Regions from separate parts of the Homo sapiens genome. Here all the other regions are linked to region 4. The links come from fine-mapping of genetic effects on gene expression. A gene starts in region 4. Each other region holds a variant in brackets. All regions are shown on one strand. Distances are from middle to middle.

Region 1 (4,099 bases), 210 kb after region 4:
ACACACCCTGAAATGGCCCCAGGTCAGGACTATATTTTAGATTTGCTGTGGGGATAGCATTCTAATATTGAACATTGTTAAACCGTGAAATAATCTCTTGACCTCAGTACTGTTAAACCCAGTTCTTGGTTGCTGCATCCAAACCAGGAAAACTCTAAGATCCTTCCTAGCTTTAAAAATTAGATGACTTGGGCCGGGCGCAGTGGCTCATGCCTGTAATCCCAGCACTTTGGGAGGCTGAGGTGGGCGGATCACGACTTCAGGAAATCAAGACCATCCTGGCCAACATGGTAAAACCCCGTCTCTACTAAAAATACAAAAATTAGCCGGGTGTGGTGGCGGGCACCTGTAGTTTCAGCTACTCAGGAGGCTGAGGCAGGAGAATTGCTTGAATCCGGGAGGTGGAGGTTGCAGTGAGCCGAAATCGCGCCACTGCACTCCAGCCTGGGCGACAGAGCAAAACTCCATCTGAAAAAAAGAAAAAAAATTAGATGACTGTATCACATCAGTTGGGGAAACAGATTGCGATATCAGGCAGCAAAGCGATTTGCCTAGTGGAATTAGCCCCTAACCCTGCTTGCCCTGGTGGTTAACTCACTGCTTTCGCTCCCCACTCTCTAATACCTGTTAATACAAAATGAGAGGAAGGGAAAGTCAGCAGTGGCTGCTGGGAGATGGGGTTAGGGAAGAGGCTGACTAGAGGGGCAGCAGGGGAAAGGGTGCAGCCATGCCACGTGCTGTAGCCTGTTACACTCCGGTATGGCTTTGCCAGCGTTCATAGAACCATCTAACAAAAAGTGAATTTGAAGGTGTGTAAATTATTTTAGAGTTGAATTTCTAAAAAAGAATAGGCCCAAACATCAGTCTGTATTAGGGAGGAATCTAATCTTGGGAGGGGATAGGAAGGAGATGTTTCTGTACAAACATAAATACGTTATCAGTATATCCTATTTGATCAACTTCTTTGATGTGTTTCTTTTGCTGAGTTAAGGATCCATAGGTAGAACTTTTCAGCTGCCTTCTCCACACAGCAAGCCCAGGCAGAGCCGGGCACTGGCTCCCCTGGTGTTTTCTTGCGTTGCTAGGCCGCCCCATCTGTCGGGCTGTAAAACAAGTGTCTCCGTCCTGCAGGTTACTGGAAGAGCTCCTGAACAAGTTCAAGAGTAGCATGCACTTGCAGCTCACCTGTTTCCAAGCAGCTTCTTCAACCATGATGAAAACATAAATATCTGCCACATAAAAGAAGTCCAGGAAAATAACACGTAATAAGACTGTTCACTCTCTAAGTACCCTAAAGGTATTTGGTGTATTAAACATTGGGTTTGCCATTTTTCTCTTTTTTCTTCCTCTGACTTCGAAAATTGTTGGTATACATTTCAACCAAAATGACCTCATTTGAAATGCCCAGGAAGTATTTGTTTTGCCATTCTTACTAGATCAGATCCTGTATGACTTTAAAATACATTTTAAAATATATTTTGCATCTCAGCAGAAGGTTGAGTGCTGCAGGAAGAGCTGCTTCTGCAGGGAGTTTTCTGGAATGGCGTGGCACATATTGAAGCATTTCTCAGTGTCCCGTTCACGGAAGCGCAGGCAGCTCCCACGACACACGGAGAGACTGACTGATACGAGATTTGGAAAGCTATGTAGACATCTTTGGAGCTCTTACTGTCCTAAACTGTACAGCTGTGCTTAAAACCCTCATTTCATATAAATGGCCTTAAGTTTTCTAATTCAAGCGGGTTTTTGGAAAAATTTATGGTCTCCATTAAAATACATATTACAACTGGGGTAGATTATTTGTGGTCCAGGTGTCTGTGATTTAACTTTGCGTTTTGCTATCTGATTTTTATTTTTCACAGGGCTAAGCATGAGCTTTCATTCTCACTCACTCTTAATTTGTCGTGCGTCACTACACATGCACGTGTTGCAGTCCCTGAGGCCCTGTGTGTTATCTGTGATGGAGTGTGAATGTGTAACGGGCACTGTGTTACACTCTGAGGTGTTGGCGGGGCGGTCGCAGACTTCAGGGTCCCCTAACGGAAAGGCCAGGCTCCGCGTGGACGGCCAACTCCCTGCCCGCTCCTTCAGCAGGTGACTGTCTCTGCCACTTCTTACCTGCTGAAGGATCTTGCTCAGTAGCTGGAACAATGCTGCTGTCACACAGTCTCTTCTCTGAAACTTCAGGATGCTCCTTGGTCACCAGGCAATGGGAGCTGTAGACCAGCCGCATGCACTTGCCCCACATTCACTGCTGACTGGCTTCACTGGAATAGGTTCAGGTCACCGGGACTTCTCTCAGAGTCAGC[G/A]GCCCACCCAACTCCCTCATACCGTCGCATCTGAAAATTTTCAGAGAGGAATTCTCTTTGTAGTCGGCTTGTCAGGGTTTTCAAGTTTTTCTATGGTTATTTTTAAATCTCTTTTTTTAAATGCTAAAATTAATGTCCTCATTAATGCAAGTAATTTTAGAGCACAGTGTAGCCATGTACAGTTTCCATTATTTAAAATAAATAAATGTGTTGGTTCATTTGGTGTATGGGGGGACATCATGGTAACTGGAAATGAAAGTTTAATCTTTCACAAATGTGCTTGATAAAGCTGTTAAGAATTGTCTTTCCTAAGTATGTTAACTGTTGTATCTAACTCAACTGTGAGCTAAGTTTAAAAACTGCAATCATGAATGTTTGTGATATTTTAAATATCTACTACAGCACATTCAGCCAATAAAGAATCTGCCTTTAATGTAAGTTGTAATTTACTTGACATTTTTCCCTAAGTGTCTTTATTTCAACATTTTCATATTTCTACTGTTAACACCCAAAATACTTACATTCTGGTTAACCCTGTATTGGTAAACACATTGTCAGAAACCATCTGTCAGGTCCTGCTAATTCTGTTTGCTGGGGACTTACCATGTGCGAGGCACACCATGAAGTGCCTCGTTGAATCCTCACAACAGCCTTATGATACATGTGGGCTAGCTTACCGCCACGTCCATTTAGCAGAGGAAGGAATCAGGGCTTAGAGAGAGGTTGGTGACTTCCGTAAGACTGCAAGGCAGTAAGTAGCAGGACTCATGTTCACACTCTGGCTCTGTATGTCCTTGACTTCACTACTGCTCAGCTCTTCCTTCCAGCGGAATATGCTTTCTGACATCCATCCACCTGGGTCACAGCTCAGAGAAAGTTCATCAATTCCAGAGGCTAATAAACAGTAGCAACACGGAAACCGGTAGTGCTTTTATGGCTCAGAGTGGAAGGTAAAGGCCTAAAAACCCCATACCCAAGTGAGGGAGTTCAAGGACTACTATTCCAACAAGTCAGGGGGGACTTCTTGGAAGAAAGGGGGATTTCAAGAGCTACTTGAGTTACAGAACCCTGGTTTAGTGGGTAAGAGGAGATGAATATGAAATAAGTTAGATGAAAGCCGAGAGAGAAACCAGGACCTGGAGCAAGTTAACGAGGCAGCTGAGAAAACAAATTAGGGAGGTTCAAGGTACTTCAGTGCTCCAGTGGCATTTCATTTCCAGCACACCCATGTTCTTTGTGGGTCACAGCATGGCTTCATGTGAGTTAGCTGAGCTGGCCTCACTTGAATGGGAAAGAGCTATTAGAAATCACTTGGTTTTTTACTAAGACTTTCTTTATCAGTGTACCATGAAAGAGCATATTCTAGAAATGATTTGGGCATTGCAAAACAAGCATCATTGCCTTAGGCTGAGCACACTGACTCATTCTCCTGTCTCTTGTCATCTTTGCATGTAGATTTTTTTAAAGGGAAGAAATAGAAGAGATTATATTTTTATTCTGGATTTGGTACAAGGTGGTGGTGTGTATTTCTGTTTTGATCACGTGCTATGGGATATTCTGTTAGTTTCATAAGCGTGTTGTGTAATGTTTTCAGAAAAGTTACAAATTTTAACTAGTTTTTAAATCAAGATTAGGTTTCTAAAAGTCAAATATATTTTATGTAATATTCATAAAATAATTATGCATAGACTAAACTTGCATACATTTTTGTCACTGAACATTTATCTGTTGGTTCTGTTGCAAAGATTTTCATATAGATCTGTGAACTGCTCTGAAAGATATATTTAATA
Region 2 (4,120 bases), 120 kb after region 4:
CTCCCTCCACTGCCACTGGGTCTTTTAAATTTGTACTCGTGTAATTTCAAACATTCTTCTCTTGGAAAATTCCCCAATTTGTGTTGATACTGGTGCTAAGTATTATCAGCCATCATCGCTTTTGCTTGTTACAGTAACTACCAGTAATTTAATAATTAAAATATATATTACATTTAAAGGAATGCTATTTGATTTTTAAGTCATTGGGTGCAGGTCAGTGCTTATTAAACATATTTAGTTCAAGTCTAGTTTTACTTTTTCTGTGGTTGAATTTTTTTAAAGTGCCACAGAAAAAAATTCTGTGAGAACTTCATTAAGATGGAATTTGCGATAAAAGTAGTATCAGTATACCTTTTTTGATGAAATTTAAACTTTGGTCTGGAAAGAGGGATTGGCTGTTAATTAACCATAAAATACTTGCTAATAATTTTTCCTAAGATGAAGCATCTAAAATTTTAAGTATGTTGCATTTCTGAACTTTCTGGAGTGGATATTTACCATTTTCCTATTTGAGATACAACATGATCGACTATCAGGCATTCTTGCACCAAATTAGATGCCACTAGTCAGGAGCCATTTGTGATCTCAATAACAGATATAAGAAACCCAAATAGACTAATAGAAATACCTTACATTGTATTAAATTCAGATACCTGTACAGTTGTTTTAAAATGTCTTATATTATTCTTAACAAGCATTGCAGTAGGGAATTTTTCGAAGGTTTTATTAATATAAATGAATGTTCATCATAAGAGCACCTTAAAATTAGATGATTCATTTGTACTAAATGAAAGGCTTCCATAACTGTTGGTATTCCTTCTTCTTGTCCGATTCTCATTCCTCTCCCAGCTCACCAAACATTAGAACAAACAATGTTAGATCAGAACCGTTTGCTCCTACATTCTGTGGGACAGCAGCTAACATTATATAATGTTCAATGTAATTGCACAGAGGAGCTGAGATCTTTTGAAACATTATTCTTGGGAAAGATACCATGTAAGAATCCATTTGCTGCCATATTAAGCTGTGTTAGTCTGTTTGTGTTGCTATAAAGGAACACTGAGGCTGGGTAGTTTATAAAGAAAAGAGGTTTATTGGCTCACAGTTCTGCAGGCTGTACAGGAAGCATTGCGCCGGCATCTGCTACTGGGAGGCCTCAGGAAGCTTCCAGTCATGGCAGAAGGCAAAAGGGGAGCCAGCATGTCGCATGGCAGGAGATGGAGCGAGGGAGAGGATGGAGAGGGAGCGAGGGAGAGGATGGAGAGGGAGCGAGGGAGAGGATGGAGAGGGAGTGAGGGAGAGGATGGAGATGCCAGGCTCTTTTAACCCATTTCCCATTTAGGGAAAAAAGGTGCAGCTCACTGCTGGTGCTCACTTAATTTACATAAACATGTTCTTTGAGGCTGAAGCAAATATCACTGATTTTCAGTGTGAAAACAAAATATAAGAACTGTTCTTGGAATTATTTCTAAACAACTCGTCTCTAATCCTAATGTAATAGAAATGTAAATGGTGTTCCATTAGGATTAGAGACAAGAGTGTTCTCGGGGCACACGGGCAATGGGTGAAACAACTAGATCTTGTGTGAACTCATAGAGCAAGAACTCACTCATTATTGCAAGGACACCAAGCCATTCACGAGGGGCCCGCCCCCATGGCCCTCCTGCAACATTGGGGATCACATTTCAACATGAGATTTGGTGGGGACAAAACATCCAAATCGATCAAAGGCAAATCTTTCAGTGCTTCCATTTTTAGATTTTCTTGTCCTGTTTTTCACCTTGTCATTGGACCCTTGACGCAGCTGGCCATGGCCTCGCCCTGTGGCACGCCACCTGCCATCTGGAAAACAGGCATTACCAACTACTGTTGGGGAGAGGAGTCTGTAACTGCTGTCTCCAGATGAAACCCACTCACCTCAGATTACCATCATGGTGTATTCAATTGGTTAATTGACTGTTCTGTTAGATTCTAAGCTGTGAAGGCAGAGCCTGCCTTGTTCAGCATTCAGAGTGAGTTTTGATCTTGGGTGGAGCCACATGATAAGCACACGGTTAATCCTCAATAAATATTAGCTGAATGAAAAATAAAAGTTTACAGTGTGCCCTTAAGTAAAGAACCGTTCCTTTCACACCTGTGAAAATGAGTTTAAAACTTTTTCCTGCAACTCCTAGCATAGACAAAGGGCTAATATACCTAATAAATAAAGAGGCTCTATAGCCTACACAGAGGACGTGTCAGTGGTTCTTACACGTGTGAGTAGACACTCAACCCCACAATAGTAAGAAGAAAGGT[C/T]GCATAACACTACAATGAGATACGAGGTTGGCAAAAACTCTGAGTGTTTATCGTTTTGTTTTGGGTTTTCTATGTTTGTTTGTTCATTGATGAGGCCACTACTTGCACGTGTCACCGGTGGAAGTATGAGGGCATACTTCCTTTAGAGGGCAGTTCAATAATATCTATCAAAATTACAACCACAGGTGCTCTTTGTCCCAGCAATTCTTGTTCTGGACGTTTTCTATGCTTTCACTTGAGCATGTGCTAAATGATATAGGTATACAGTTACTGGCTGAAACATTCATTTTAATTGCAAAAGACCGAAGACAGTCTTGTCCATTGGAAGGGAACTTGTTAAATTACGATACGTCAAAAATGTGAAAGGCAGTATAACTGTGGGGAGAAAAAGAGGAAGCCTTTGCCTTACGTTTGAATACAGAAGAACTCCAGGATCCATCGCTAAATGGAAGAAGCCAAGCTTCAAAAGAGTGTGTTTGGCCTTTCGTTTGTGTAAAAACCAAAAACGTGTAAAGAACAGTTGGGAGGGAGAAAAACACATTTATACTTGCTTGTGTATATAAAAAATATTTCAGAAAGAGTCACAATAACTAGTGACAGTGGTTTCTTCCGGCTGGGAACTAGGCACTTGGGAGTGGAGGGGCAGGAGGTAGACTTTTCACTGTGTACCTTTCAGGTGTCATTTTCTAACCATGTATTACCTGATCAAATAACTATTTAAATTATTAAATCATTAATAAATTATTAATACAATTTTATTAATAAAATTTCTTAATAAAATTAAGAAATTTTATTAATACAGTTTATAAAATTTGCCCTTCCTTCACTGGACTAACAACAGCAAATCCTTTTGCTTGGGGGTATTTGGAAAGGAAGCTAGCAATTAGCCTGGCCCAGGGAATAAACGTTCTCATGGGAGTCCACCTGCCCCTGAAGTTGCTGAGTAGGAGTTAGAGCCTGATCCGCGGCGTCATTGTGCTGAGGACTGGACGGGGTGGACTCTGCAGTGCCCCTGCCATGGCCACCGAGTGGAGTGCGGGGCGGGAGGCAGGTGGGAGGCAGCAGGGCGAAGGCATGGCCCTGGGAGTGAAAAGAAAGAAGGGAGACAGAGGACATGGTGAGTGGGTCCTGAATTTCTACACTTGCTTTATTCCCATGAACCTGTTCTTCCCACAAGAAGTCTAAGCCCTTATTTCCCAGTTACAGCAATAGCTATGTTAAATGATGTATAGCCAAAGAGGTTTCAACGTTTCTAGTTTTTCTTAAATTTCTTTATTTTAGGTGGGGTTATTTAGTATGTGATTGCACTAGAATGTTTCCTTGTGATAACTGGATTCCTTCCTGCATTCTCACTTCCCAGGGTGTATGATGGCATTTCTCACAGGCTGATCAGCTGCAATTTCACAACTGGCTGCACAGCAGCCCCTGCCTTTGCTGTTAGAAGGCGGGACTTTTTGAAGAGACGTTTACTATCCAGAGGACAAGGCTGATAAGTCAAAGCCACCTCCTCTCGGTAGCCCTCCCAGTACTGAGGCTGTGGCCACCTGGTCCCTTGCCCTGGCTTGCTGGTCAGCCATGAGGGAGAGGGGCTCTTCCTTGCCAGAGGGCAAGGAGAAATGCGGGGGTGTCTGGTGACGAGCGTACCGCTGCCGGTGTCAGCCAGGTGGGCCGCGAGCGTCCACGCAGACTCAGGCTATTCCTAGTGCATGTTGGAGTTTTGCGGGAGTGGAGGGGGGTGCGCCAATATGCTCAAAGGTGTTTTCTTGATTCAGAAGTACAATCATAGTATTTTATTCTTTTCCCCCTTAGCGTGGAGATACAAAAC
Region 3 (4,120 bases), 160 kb after region 4:
CTGGGATCATTAAATTAGCCACAGTTACTTAATGTGACCACAGTTATTGAATTTCCTGAGCTCACAGTCATGGCAGTCATGCCAGCCCTTATTCCTCATGTGCTTTTCTGTGCACACACTTTTCTGTGCACACACTTTCTGTGCCCAAACCACATTCAGTTCATACCCTCAAAGTACATCCTTTTAAAGTTTAAGGCAGGTTCTATCAGTATCTTACTTAAAATTCTTACAACATCTTCTCATGATAGTAAAACCGGGGAAGCTGTGCTGTGCCCACCTCTGCCCTGGCACTCTGCCCACTGCCCCAATGCTCCACCTCACAGCCCCTCTCCAGCTGGACTCAACCTCTGCCTTTTTGAAAAGCTCATCCTTCTAAAATATAAATTGGATCCTGTCAATCCCCTGCTGAAAAACCTTCGAGGAGGCTCATTCTCCCTGAGGCTAACCCCAGACTTCTCAGACAAGGTAGCATCCCCACAGGTACCAGATTCCACGGATGCTCAAGTTCCCAGTGTGAAATGGTGTCATATTCGCATGTAACCTATGCACATCCTCCTGTATGCTTTAAATCATTTCTAGATTACTTATAACACCTAATACAATGCCCGTGCTTTGTGAATAGTTGTTAAACTGTATCATTTAGGGAGTCATGACAAGGAAGAAAGTTTGTATATGCTCAGTACAGATGCAGCCATCTGGGTCCCCCACCCCGGAATATTTTCCATTCATGGTTGGTTGAATCCACAGATGCAGAAGCCACTGTTGTGGAGGCCACAGATGCAGAGGCCACAGATGCAGAGGGCCAGCAGTACTCCCTGTGCTTGCTATGAGTTACTTCCCTCTCCACGGGCTCCCCCAGGCAGCAGGCAGGCTGGGTGCTTCGTGCACTGTGAACCCTGTGCCTAGTCCCTCTCACCTCTGCCCCTCTCCTAACCTCTCCTGCCCTTCCGGGCCCTGTGTCCTCTGGGAGCTCACCCAGCCCATCCCCTGCATGTCTCCAGGTCGCATTGGCCTACCTCCATTCGTGATGCTCCCAGAGCAGCTCTTGCCACTCTCTGTGCCCGCGGGAAATGTTTTGTCGTTATCTAGCTCCTTGCTGGACAGTCTCAGCACAAGGCCGTCATTTGGGTGTCTTGTTCTCAGAGTTTTTAGCATAGTGCAGTCTGTGACACTCAGCTGATGCTGTGTGTGTGTTTGTGGAGTAAATGAAGATTGGCATTTTCTATAATAATATACCATCTCTCTAAATGTGCCAGTTGCTCCTTCTCTTCTAAGTGTTTGCCATATGCTTTTGCCTGATTTTTCTCAAAATTTTCTCAGTAGGAAAGTACATTATACAGTGTTCTAGCTTCCACTGTTCTTCTGATTTGCTTTTTAATAAACAGTACACGGTGGATATTCATATTTGCTGAATGGGAATGAGTGAGAGTGCTCATTTTCTTGTCCTTTGTGAATTCTCATATGGTAGTTGCATAGACTTGCTAAATTTGAGCAGCTGCGTTTCAATTAAAATGCGACTGTCAAGTGTATCTAACACATCAGCACGTCTGTCTGTTTAACTATTTAAACTCTTACCGAACAATGTATTACCTTGCACCATGCAAAAAGTAATACATTTTTCGGTAATAGTTAAAATGAATTTTGTTAAAGTTCGTATCTTCCCCTGTGATTAGCATGTAACGACATTAACTGTTCACACATCTAACACATCAGCAATTCTATCTGTTTAGTTATGTAAACTATTACTGAACAATGTATTACTTTGCATCACCATGCAAAAAGTAATACATTGTTCAGTAATAGTTTAAATGAATTTTGTCAAAGTTCATATCTTTTCCTGTGATTCACATGTAAGTACGTTAACTGTTCACTCTGAAATCATGCTTATCTTAATTGGTTATGTTCAAGGCTATTAAATCACTTGTGATATTTCTTTGAGAATAGAAAAAAATCATGACACAGCCCCTCTGAGTTTCCTGCGCTTCAGTGATGACTATAAAAATTTAGAATGGGCCACCGAGTTTCACTCTCAACAAAGTGATTCTTCTCTGTCGTCACTGAAATCTCCGATTGTTACCGAGAAAGAGGATTTATTTGCCCCTGATGCAGAAGAAGACTTTTCTTTGCCAGCCCTCTCTCAGACCTGCTGCCTCCGTTAACAAACAGCGAGGCATCTTTAGTGTATGCCGAACACCGGCAGGGGCAGTCGAGAATGTCTGTCAGGTGAAAGGCAGGTCTTTCCCATCCACCCGCTCCAAGGTGTCTTCGGAAAACAGACATCTATGAAGGCCCATTCCCTGAAGGGCGGCGTTAGGTCACAGGACTTCAAGTGCAGGGGCTGCTGGCCATTATCACGAGGCTGTGAATCGTGTGGCAGCACTTGAGTGAGCAGTA[A/G]CCAGGGCGCGGGGGGGGGTAAAAGGCAGGCGATGCCGGGCTAACGGGGATCTTAGGGTTCTTCTGCATCCGGCTAGTTACCACCACTTGGAATTTCAAAGTCCTCACTGGATTTATCTTAGGGTTCTTCTGCATCCGGCTAGTTACCACCACTTGGAATTTCAAAGTCCTCACTGGATTTATCTTAGGGTTCTTCTGCATCCAGCTAGTTACCACCACTTGGAATTTCAAAGTCCTCACTGGATTTATTTAAGGTACCCAGAATCCTGTCTCTGTGACCTTCATATTTTCCAGCCATGACATTGAACTAGACAAGCCTCGGTTGTGAATTAGGATCAGAGCCTAAATGTAATCCTGAGGTTGATCTTAATAAGAGTCTGTAACCTCAGATAATCTTCACTACAAAATTAAGATTCTTCTGGCTGTGTGACATTAAGTGGTGAGGCTTTTTTTTTTAACATAGCTTCGTTTATTGGTTTTGTTTTTTTCCTGACAAACTTTCTTTCATAAGCAAATGGCACATGGCACCATACTACCAGCAATTTATTTACTCTTCCTCAGATTCCAAAAACATGTAGAAGTCATCGGTGCTCGTTTCACTTTTATAAACTCTATTTAGTTCTGTTCTTTGTGTAGTTTTGACTTCATGATTACTAACTGAACCTCAGCCTTGCATAGTCATATAGTGATTTTTAGTTTGTTTAAAGCTGACTTAAGTTGAGACCTTGTGTAAAGTGAGCAGCCAAAATAGTTTGACTATTAATCTTCCAAAATAATTTCAATTAACAACTTTAGTATTATCTTCAGAGTTTACTTCTTCAGAAACTGAATTTTGCAAATCATGTAGGTAACTGATTACTTATTGCTGTAGTTACCAATAAATTTAGTTTCCGATACTGTATGTAGTGATTAAAAAAAAAAATCCAGTTGATTAATTTCATGATTCAACAAGAGATATCCGTTAAAGCCGTAGCGATGTTTTTTTAAATCTTACCGTTGGGTATTTAAATTGTTGTCACCTCTTTATTTGTGTATATGTCAGTAAAGATTATTCTAGTTAGTTCTGAGTCACAAAACTGCTGTTAAGATTTTAATTGTTCTGTTATCTGCAATTATTAAGAGTTCTTAGTATTTGAATTTTATAAATTTTAAATAAGAATACTGTTGGTCTTTACTTACAAATACACATTGAAGTTCACGTCTTTGAAACATTAAATAAGAAAAAAGTATTATTTAAGTTTTCTGTTAAATACTGGTTTTATTTTTTCTATCAAAAAGTCATAAAAATTTAAATTAATGTATATTATTTAAAGTTATTTACTAAGTGAATCTAAACTTAATCATTTTCTATAGGTAAATAGTGAACTTATTTTTGATTCAAATGTGCTTATACTAATTATAGTAATTGAAATTATAATGGGAAAGGGAAAACTTTATATAATTTGTGACATGAGTATGTCTAGGACCATTCTAAAAATAACAGCAGAGTTGGTTGCTTCCATGTATGATGCATATAACCTAGAGTAGGGTAACCTCCTGCCCGTCAGTGGTGTGCCAGAGCACAGGCTTGGGGTGCACAGTCCATCAGTGAGCGAAACTTGTAAGTGTGTTGTCCAGGCAGTGTGCCAAGCAGCATATTCCAACAAATTGAAGAGAAAGAAAATGTAAGTCTAATTATGGAGACAGAGGCAGAAGCACAGCTCTTCTCAAGTCTATGTTTGTTGAA
Region 4 (4,120 bases):
GATCCCGACCGGGGCCGCAGGTGGAGCCGCCTGCCAGTCCCGAGCCATGCGCCCACACTCCTCAGCCCTTGGGTGGTCGATGGGACTGGGGGCCGTGAAGCAGGGGGCAGCGCTCGTCGGGGAGGCTCGGGCGCACGGAAGCCCATGGCGGGGGGGGTTGGCTCAGGCACTGCAGGCTGCAGGTCCCCAGCCCTGCCCCGCGGGAAGGCAGCTAAGGCCCGGGGAGAAATTGAGCACAGCAGCTGCTGGCCCAGGTGCTAAGCCCCTCACTGCCCAGGGCCGGCGGGTTGGCTGGCCGCTCCGAGTGCCGGCCCGCTGAGCCCACGCCCACCCAGAACTCGCGCTGGCCCGCAAGTGCCGCACGCAGCCCGGGTTCCCACCAGCGCCTCTCCCTCCACACCTCCCCACAAGCTGAGGGAGCCGGCTCCGGCCTTGGCCAGCCTAGAAAGGGGCTCCCACAGTGCAGCGGTGGGCTGAAGGGCTCCTCAAGCACAGCCAGAGTGGGTGCCAAGGCCGAGGAGGTGCCCAGAGCGAGCGAGGGCTGTGAGGGCTGCCAGCACGCTGTCACCTCTCAAAACAATGTTTTAGTAGAAGTATATCCCATGCAACATTAGTTTAGTGATAAATATATCTATACTACAAATTACTTGTTGTTTATCTGAAATTAAACTTTACTGGGTATTTGTATTTTTATTGCTAAATCTGCCAACCTAGGTTGTTGAAACTTACTTTTTTCCACTTCACTTAATATTCTTTTCACAGTCCACTCTGACGAGATGTAGCTTCCCCACACTCCTTTGAAACTGCTTTTGTCAAGGATGCCAATGACTGGCATATGCCAAACTCAATTGTCTCTGGAGTCTTGGCCTCACAGTACTTCTGAACATTGGCTATCAATTCCTCCTTCCTGAAACTATTTAGCTTCCAGAATCCGCTACCCCCACTTTCCTGATTGTCCTTCCTCCCTGGCCATAGCCCCTGAACCCGAGCTTCCCCCAACCTAGAGCATCCCCTGACCCTAAGTATCCCCCCAACCCTGAGAACCCCCTGACCCCGAGTATCCCCCGACCTCGAGAACTCCCCGACCCCGAGCATCCCCCCAACCCCCAGCATCCCACGACCCCGGGCATCTCCCCCGATCCTGCGCATCCCCTGACCTGGTATGGCGCCCTGACCCAGTGCAGCCCTCAAACCCCTGCAGCCCCCTGACCCCATGCATCCTCCTGACCTAGGGCTGCCCCTGACTCAATGTTGCCCCCGGACCCCAGTGCCTCCTCCTGACCTGAGGCACGCCCCCCAACCTGGTACAGTCCCCTGATTCCAGTGCATCCTTCTGACCCAGTGCTGCCTCCTAACCTGGTGCATCCTCCTTACCCAGTGTGGCCCCCTGGGGATGCACACTCCAGTGCATCCTCCTGACCTGATGCTTCCTCTGGTCTCGGTGCAGCCCCCCTGACCTGGTGCAGCCCTCTGATTCCATGCATTCTCTTGACCTTGTGCATCCCCCTGTTCCGGAGGGGTCCTCTGACCCGATGCAGGGCCCATCGTTGTGAACTGTGGCCCACAAACGCACTATCATCCCACAGTCTCCCTGAGATGACCCGAGGGCACGGGGATGGATGGTGCACCCGGCCTGCCCCTTGAGCTTGTATCCTTCTTTCCCTCCCTCACCGCTTCCCGCCACCGCAAAGACGCCCAGCAAAAACCTCCTACTCGTGTCCATTCAGGCAGCTGGGTCCCTCGGAACCCAAGGCATTCCAGCGTCCACCGCCCACGGCCCCTGCTGACCTCCAGCACCCGCGCCGGTCTCCTCCCCTCCTCTACCCTCCCCTGAAGGCTCCGCCCATCGAGGACTCGGCGCTCGACTGCCAGGCGGATCTACACGCTCGGCGCTCGCGGCGGGCGGAAGTGAGGTGCCGGCGGCTGGCGGCCGCGGAGTCTTCGGCGAGACCTACCGGGCCCTGTCTGTGCCGGCCGTGAGCTGCGGCAGGACGGCTGGAGGTATGTGTGGGAGGCTGGAGGGCCTGGCCGAAGGCCAGCGGGACATGGACGTCAGCTGCACGGAGGTGGCCGCCTGCGGCGTCCGTCCAGGCCTCAGCGGTGAAGGGACAGCCGCGCCCACTGGCGCCGTCGGTCACCTGCGGGGCCCCGCGACCCCCCGCGGTTCCCAGCCCCGCAGCCCCCATCCCCGCCGTCAGCCGCCTGCTGGGCTCCGCGCCCACCCCCGCCAGTTCGCACCCCCGCGGTCCCCACCTGCGCCGGTGAGGGGCGTGGGCTGCAGAGGGCTGACTCCAGGCCCCGCCCGCTGGAGCTGGCCCCAGACTGCGCCGCTTCGCCCTTGCGCAGTTGCCACTCCGTGAGATTTGAGAATTTCTCCGGAAAAGTGAACGCGAGGCGGGTGTTACCTGTCTGCCTAGGCGTGCATCCCGCTCTGGCTGTCCTGAGCGCTTAAAAGGCGCCTGCCGCTGTTGTCAGCGTTTGCGTGCACGTACTTGATCCTCGCGCGGGTGTATGTACGCTGCCGTGTGACCCATTTTACGGATAGGGGAGCGGCGGCTCAGAGTGCTTGAGCAAAGAGCCTGAGGTCCTGTTGTAGCTGCCATTGAGACCTTGCGCGCCGGCTCCAGGTCCGCACACCAGCAGCCTGGAAGCCTGGTGATGCGTAACCCTGTATCCCAAGATTGTTAAGAAAACACTTTAGTAATTCCGAGAAATAGTTCTTGAAAGAACTCGTCTTTGAATGGAAGTAAGTTATTTTTAATCTGCCAAAGGTCAACATACTAATAAGTCTGAGAAATTTTAAGTCTGATGCCTTTATGAATCTGTGAGTAAACTTACAAGGAACACTTAAAAAATATTTTTTCTAAGTTAGCCACACTTTAATTAAATCTTTTTGTGTGCACTATGCAATATTGAAAAGTTACTTCTGAGCTTATGTGGATCTGTCTTCTAATGCATAATAATGTTTTGTTTATGAATGTTAGTATGTACTGGCCCATGCTTTGTGTAACTGACTCCTTTAATGACAAATCAACTGAAAGCCAGAATCTTCTCAAAGATGATTTTTTTGTGCTAAAAGTTGGCGATTCCCAGAGTAGTAATAGAAAGAGGGTGATGTGTGCTTAGTACTTACATGTTCACTTGTTTGTCTAAGTAGAAACTTAATAAATTAAAGCAGAGAAGCAGAGTTCCCCCAGTGTGACTTGGACCAACTCTTGGAAGTTTTAGAAAGTGATCTTTTTTTCTTGTCAAGTATTTAATTTCCTGTATTGAATGCCATTTTGAACTACAGTTGACCCTTGAACAACACTGGGGTTAGGGGTGCCCACGCAGTCAAAAATTTCCATGTAACTTTTGACTTTCCCAGGACTTTACTAATAGCCTACTGTTGACCAGAAGCCTTACTGATACATAAACAGTTGACTTACATGTATTTTGTATGTTATACGTATTATATACTGTATTCTTAAAGTAAGCTGAGAGAGGAAAATGTTAAAATCACAACAAATGTATTTACTCTTCTTTAAATGAAAGTGGAGAATCATGAAGGTTATTATCCCCATAGTCTGCATGAGTAGATTGTGGAGGAGGAAGAAGAGGAGGGATTTTCTCAGGAATGGCAGAGATGGAAGAGATGGAGGAAGTGAAAGGGGAGTGGGAGATGCAGGCACACTCAGTGCAACTTTTGTTGAAAAAATCCGTGTATAAGTGGATCTGTCTCATTCAAACCCATGTTGCTTAAGGGTCAACTGTATTACTTTTCTAAAAGATGGTTATTAACTTGCTAAGTTCTTGGGAGCCCATTATGTAAGAATCATATGGGAAATGAAGTTGGTACTGAAAAAATAGTCTTCTAGCAAAGAACTTTTAATATTTCTAGTGTCAAGCAGCAGCAAGATTAGGCCATACAGGAAGTGCTGGTTACAGAGGTGTCCTCTCAGTTACTTTTCCACTCATTCTCCAGTTTACGCATCTTAATCCAGCCTGGGTTCCTAGTCCAGCGTCTGCCACATAGTAGGTGCTTAAATGTTTATTGAATGGATGAATTTTAGGTCACTGTTGAGAGGATTTTGAAACTGGGAAATAACATTCATTGATCACTCTGCTAAGCGGTGTACTA
Region 5 (4,120 bases), 150 kb after region 4:
AGCATAAATAAGATTATATGGTGTGTGTTTTTCTGTGACTTTGTTTTCCCACTCAGTATTATTTTGAGATGTATCCATGTTGTAGCATGTAGGTCATGCTCGTTTGTAACATGAATTAAAGAATATATTCCTTTTTCTTCTTTGAAAGAGTTTGCATAAGATTGGAATTATTTATTCTTTGAATATTTAGAAAAACGCTCTGGTAGTGGTATTTTCCGTATGCCCAGATTTTCTTTGTGAGATGATTGCTAATGACTGGCCCAATTTCTTTAATGGTTATAGAACCATCCAGCTTTTTATTTCTTCATGTTAATCGTAGTCATCTATATTTTTCTAGGACTTTGCCCATTTTGCTTAAATTTTCAAATCTGTTGGCGTAAAATTGTTTTATAACAGTTTTATTACTTCAACCTCAGCTGCGATGTGGTCCTTATTTGTACTTACTATCGCTTGTTTGTATTTTTATTCCTTCAACCTCAGCTGCGATATGGTCATTTTTTGTACTTACTATCGCTTGTTTGTATTTTTATTCTTTGTTTCTTGCCAGAGTCTTTTTCAGAGAATAACTTTTGACTTTAGTAGTGCTCTCTCGTTATATCCTTGCTTTCTCTTGCAGTAATTTGGACTCTAATCTTGTTTATTTACATAGTTCATTAATTCTAAACCTTTCTGTCTTTTAATATGAACATTTAAGGCTGTGAATTTCCCTCTAAGTGTCTTTTTAGCTGTGTTTCCCATGTTTTCGCAAGTGGTATTTTAGTTATTCTTCATTTTTTTTAGTTTTGAATTTTAATATTCTATTTTAGTCTTGGCTAGAAGTATGATTTTAAATTTCCAAGCTAAGGGAGCAGAGGAGCAGTTGGAATTAGTTTTCTCTTTGTTAGAGATTTCTAACATCATTGTTCTGAGGTCAGAGAATATCATGTTTTTAGGTTTGCTGAGGCTTGCTTTGTAAGCTCATATGTGGACAGTTTTCTGAAACCCTACCTCGGTTGAAAAGATCGTGTCCTTACGTTTTGGATACCACATTCCACAGATGTCTATTACATCGGGTTTGTGGATTATGTTGTTCAGTCCTTTTGTTTGTTTGGTTTGGACTTTGATCTCTTGATTACTGAGAAAAATGTAGTAAGGTTTTTCCTTGGCTCCTTTTTAGATACTTTATTTGCCTCTTCTGTTCTGTATTTTTATTATGTGTCTTGGTATTATTATGTTTTTTGGCCTGTTTGTTCCCTTGGCTCTGGTTGATGTCTTTAATCAATTCTGGAAAGTTCTAAGCCATTATCTCTTCAAATATTTTTTCTTCTCCATTCAAACTTTTCTGTCCTTTAAGATCTCCTATTGGGTGTATGTTAGACCTTCTCACTCTATTCTTCACATCTCTTAATTTTTTTCTTTTTTATTCTCCTCATCTTTAATTGTCTGTACTGATTGGGGTAATCTCCTCAGCTCTCTCTTTTTGTTCCTTGTTTCTTCAGTTGTGTCTAATCTTGCTGAAATTTACTGTGTATTGAAATGTTATTTCAGTTGTGTTTCTTCTCCAGAAACTTTGTTTTTTGTTACTAAGTAAGGGGAAATTATTAACTTACTCTGGAATGGTATAATTCAGAAATCAGGGAAGGAGATAGTGGTAGCAGTAAAGTTCTTTCCAGTGTCTTTCCGATTATTCTGTATAGATAGAAAATCAAATCGTCAAGGATAAGATTATCCTATTGAGAACAGTGGAGCAAACAATTGAAGCCTAATATATAGGATGTGAGGTGACTAACTTGATTATTAAAAATTCCTGGCTGGGTGTGGTGGCTCCTGCCTGTAATCCCTGCACTCTGGGAGGCTGAGGTGGGTGGATCACCTAAGGTGAGGAGTTCAAGACGAGCCTGGCCAACATGGTGAAACCCCATCTCTACTAAAAATAAAAAAATTAGCTGGGCATGGTGTGCGCATGTGTGGCTTGGAAGCCCTCGCTAACAAGTCCTGGAGACACAGGCTGTCCTTCTGTTTCAGGTGACAGTATATCCTGTTTCAT[C/T]TGTAGTTTTCTTTTTTGTGTTAATACTTCTCCTAGGAATTAAGAGGTTTTTTAAAATTAGTTATTTACTTGGCATTTATTTTGCCCCCATTTGACAAGTTGTGGTTCAGTAATATAAAGGAATGTCAGTTTGCCACCTGTCCTGCCATCCATTTGAAAAGAGCTAAAAAAAATTAATTTGTCTGAACCTAGTTATCCAGAGTCACTTGGATAGATGTTCTAATGATAGTTTGATGACCTTATTTCTATACAGATGGCCAAATTGGAATGAAAATAATTGTTTGTTGTTTATTTTCTTTCTTGGAAGCATAATTTTTAAAAAACATTATTATCAAAAAGTTTTTAAAATCACAAATTGGAAATTTTAAATTGGAAACATTAAAATACATCAAAATAATGATGTTATCTTTTAAACCATTGTGACTGTGTTGAAGACAACAGTAAAGAAGTTAGAGAAATTTGACAATCGACTTAGGCATCTCTTCTCCAGGACTGTCCATTGGGAGCACTGGCTGGCATCAGTGCCTGGTGCGTGAGATGGAAATGTTGTTGAGTGTACGTGATTGCTGCTAAGAAAGGCAGGGCGGTGGCTTATTGGGAGCACTGGCTGGCATCAGTGCCGGTGCGTGAGATGGAAATGTTGTTGAGTATATACATGATTGCTGCTAAGGTGGCAGGGCGCTGGCTTATTGGGAGTATTGTCCATTACACCAGAATTCTGCCTCCAGCATACGCCTTTTACTTCTGTAAGTTATTACCCACAGTTTTTTAATGCTTCGAAAGACCCTCCTCAGTGCTAATATGTACGAATTCAGTGAGTAAGTCTATTTCTGAATACAGATATTCCTGAACTTATGATGGGGCTACCTCCAGATAAACCCTTCCAAAATTGAAAATATCGTAAGCGCATTTTCTACTTATGATATTTTCTTTTTTTTTTTTTTCTTCAGACAGAGTCTTGCTCTGTCACCCAGGCTGTAGTGCAGTGGTGTGATCTTGGCTCACTGCAACCTCCGCCTCCCGGGTTCAAGCAATTCCTGCCTCAACCTCCCTAGTAGCTGGGATTACAGGCACCTGTCACCACAGCCGGCTAATTTTCGTATTTTTAGTAGAGACAGGGTTTCACCATCTTGGCCAGGCTGGTCTTGAACTCCTGACCCCGTGATCCACCCGCCTCAGCCTCCCAGCGTGCTAGGATTATAGGCGTGAGCCACTGTGCCCGGCCAGATATTTTCTACTTACAGTGGGTTTAACCTGACGTAGCACATCATAAGCCAGGGAACATACTGAATGCGCATTGCTTTTACACCCTGGTAAAGTGGGAAAATCATGAGTTGAACTCTCATAAGTTGGGACTGTCTGTACACAATTAAATTGTTATCTTTTTTAAAGGAGGCACTGTGTTTTTGTTAGAGACACCTGCCCTAAAAGGCCACTGGACCCTCAGGCATGTCTACTCTGCTGCCTTTCTCACCCCCATCAGTGACCCTTTAGCGCTCCGTCTCTGTTTAACCACTGCATTCCTTAAACACATCACTTTATAAGACTGATTTCCTTAGTGTCAGGATGTTTTTAAAGTTAATCTTTCTTCCTCACTCTCAGATAGCGATTAATGGTAGATGGATCTGACCCTTGCTTTTTGAGCAGGAATCAAGCAGACCCAGTTTTCTATGTTCAGCAGCCAGTGTGAACAGGGTGTTAGTGAAAATGAGGCTGTTGAGTTAATAGAAATAGCTGCTAGCATTTATTATGTATTTGCTTTCAGTGTGCTATGCAAGTTTCCTGAATTATCTGTTTAAATCCTTACAACAAAAAGTATGAGCTGTGTACTCCTGACATTGATCCTGCCTCATCACACATTAATACTGCCATTCTACTCTCTTTTTGTAGCATTTGCCTATTAACTGTTTGCACATCTATTTATTTTCAACTCCTCTTTTCCCTTCTTTTTTTAAAAAATGAGGTGTAATTTACCTACAGTAAAAGACACAAATCTTAAGCTTATGGATTGATGGCTTTTTACATATGCACACGTTCCAGCATCCACCACCAGATGAAAATACAAAACCTTCCCTTGTGCCCTGTTTGAGTAGG

Alleles and levels. Alleles are on the strand shown, and positions count from the first base shown. SD is a standard deviation of normalised expression in the study named. Not every link is listed here.
In carriers of allele A in region 3, the expression in monocytes after LPS of the gene that starts at base 1,881 in region 4 tends to be higher than with G alone (moderate effect, 0.55 SD a copy in Fairfax 2014).

The links. PIP is the estimated chance that this variant, and not a neighbour inherited with it, causes the effect.
Region 1: its variant is the best candidate, but not a certain one, in a credible set for the expression of EXOC2 in monocytes (Kim-Hellmuth 2017, PIP 0.90).
Region 2: its variant is the best candidate, but not a certain one, in a credible set for the expression of EXOC2 in whole blood (INTERVAL, PIP 0.69).
Region 3: its variant is the best candidate, but not a certain one, in a credible set for the expression of EXOC2 in monocytes after LPS (Fairfax 2014, PIP 0.54).
Region 5: its variant is the best candidate, but not a certain one, in a credible set for the expression of EXOC2 in sigmoid colon (GTEx, PIP 0.53).

Annotation. Positions count from the first base shown.
Region 1 is chr6:483,797-487,895 of GRCh38, reverse strand. It overlaps EXOC2 (exocyst complex component 2), which reads left to right. Exons shown (of 28, transcript NM_018303.6): 28 at 1,132-2,742. The coding sequence ends at 1,225. Among named protein-coding and RNA genes, the nearest start is that of IRF4, 94 kb to the right of the region's middle. The variant G/A (reference allele first, on the strand shown) is at 2,310.
Region 2 is chr6:572,629-576,748 of GRCh38, reverse strand. It overlaps EXOC2 (exocyst complex component 2), which reads left to right. Exons shown (of 28, transcript NM_018303.6): 13 at 4,105-4,120. Among named protein-coding and RNA genes, the nearest start is that of HUS1B, 82 kb to the left of the region's middle. The variant C/T (reference allele first, on the strand shown) is at 2,296.
Region 3 is chr6:527,410-531,529 of GRCh38, reverse strand. All of the region lies in intron 23 of EXOC2 (exocyst complex component 2), which reads left to right. Among named protein-coding and RNA genes, the nearest start is that of HUS1B, 130 kb to the left of the region's middle. The variant A/G (reference allele first, on the strand shown) is at 2,395.
Region 4 is chr6:690,900-695,019 of GRCh38, reverse strand. It overlaps EXOC2 (exocyst complex component 2), which reads left to right and starts at 1,881. Exons shown (of 28, transcript NM_018303.6): 1 at 1,881-2,001. RefSeq lists enhancers at 1-238, 1,668-2,554 and silencers at 2,122-2,181, 2,192-2,261.
Region 5 is chr6:537,923-542,042 of GRCh38, reverse strand. All of the region lies in intron 22 of EXOC2 (exocyst complex component 2), which reads left to right. Among named protein-coding and RNA genes, the nearest start is that of HUS1B, 120 kb to the left of the region's middle. The variant C/T (reference allele first, on the strand shown) is at 2,027.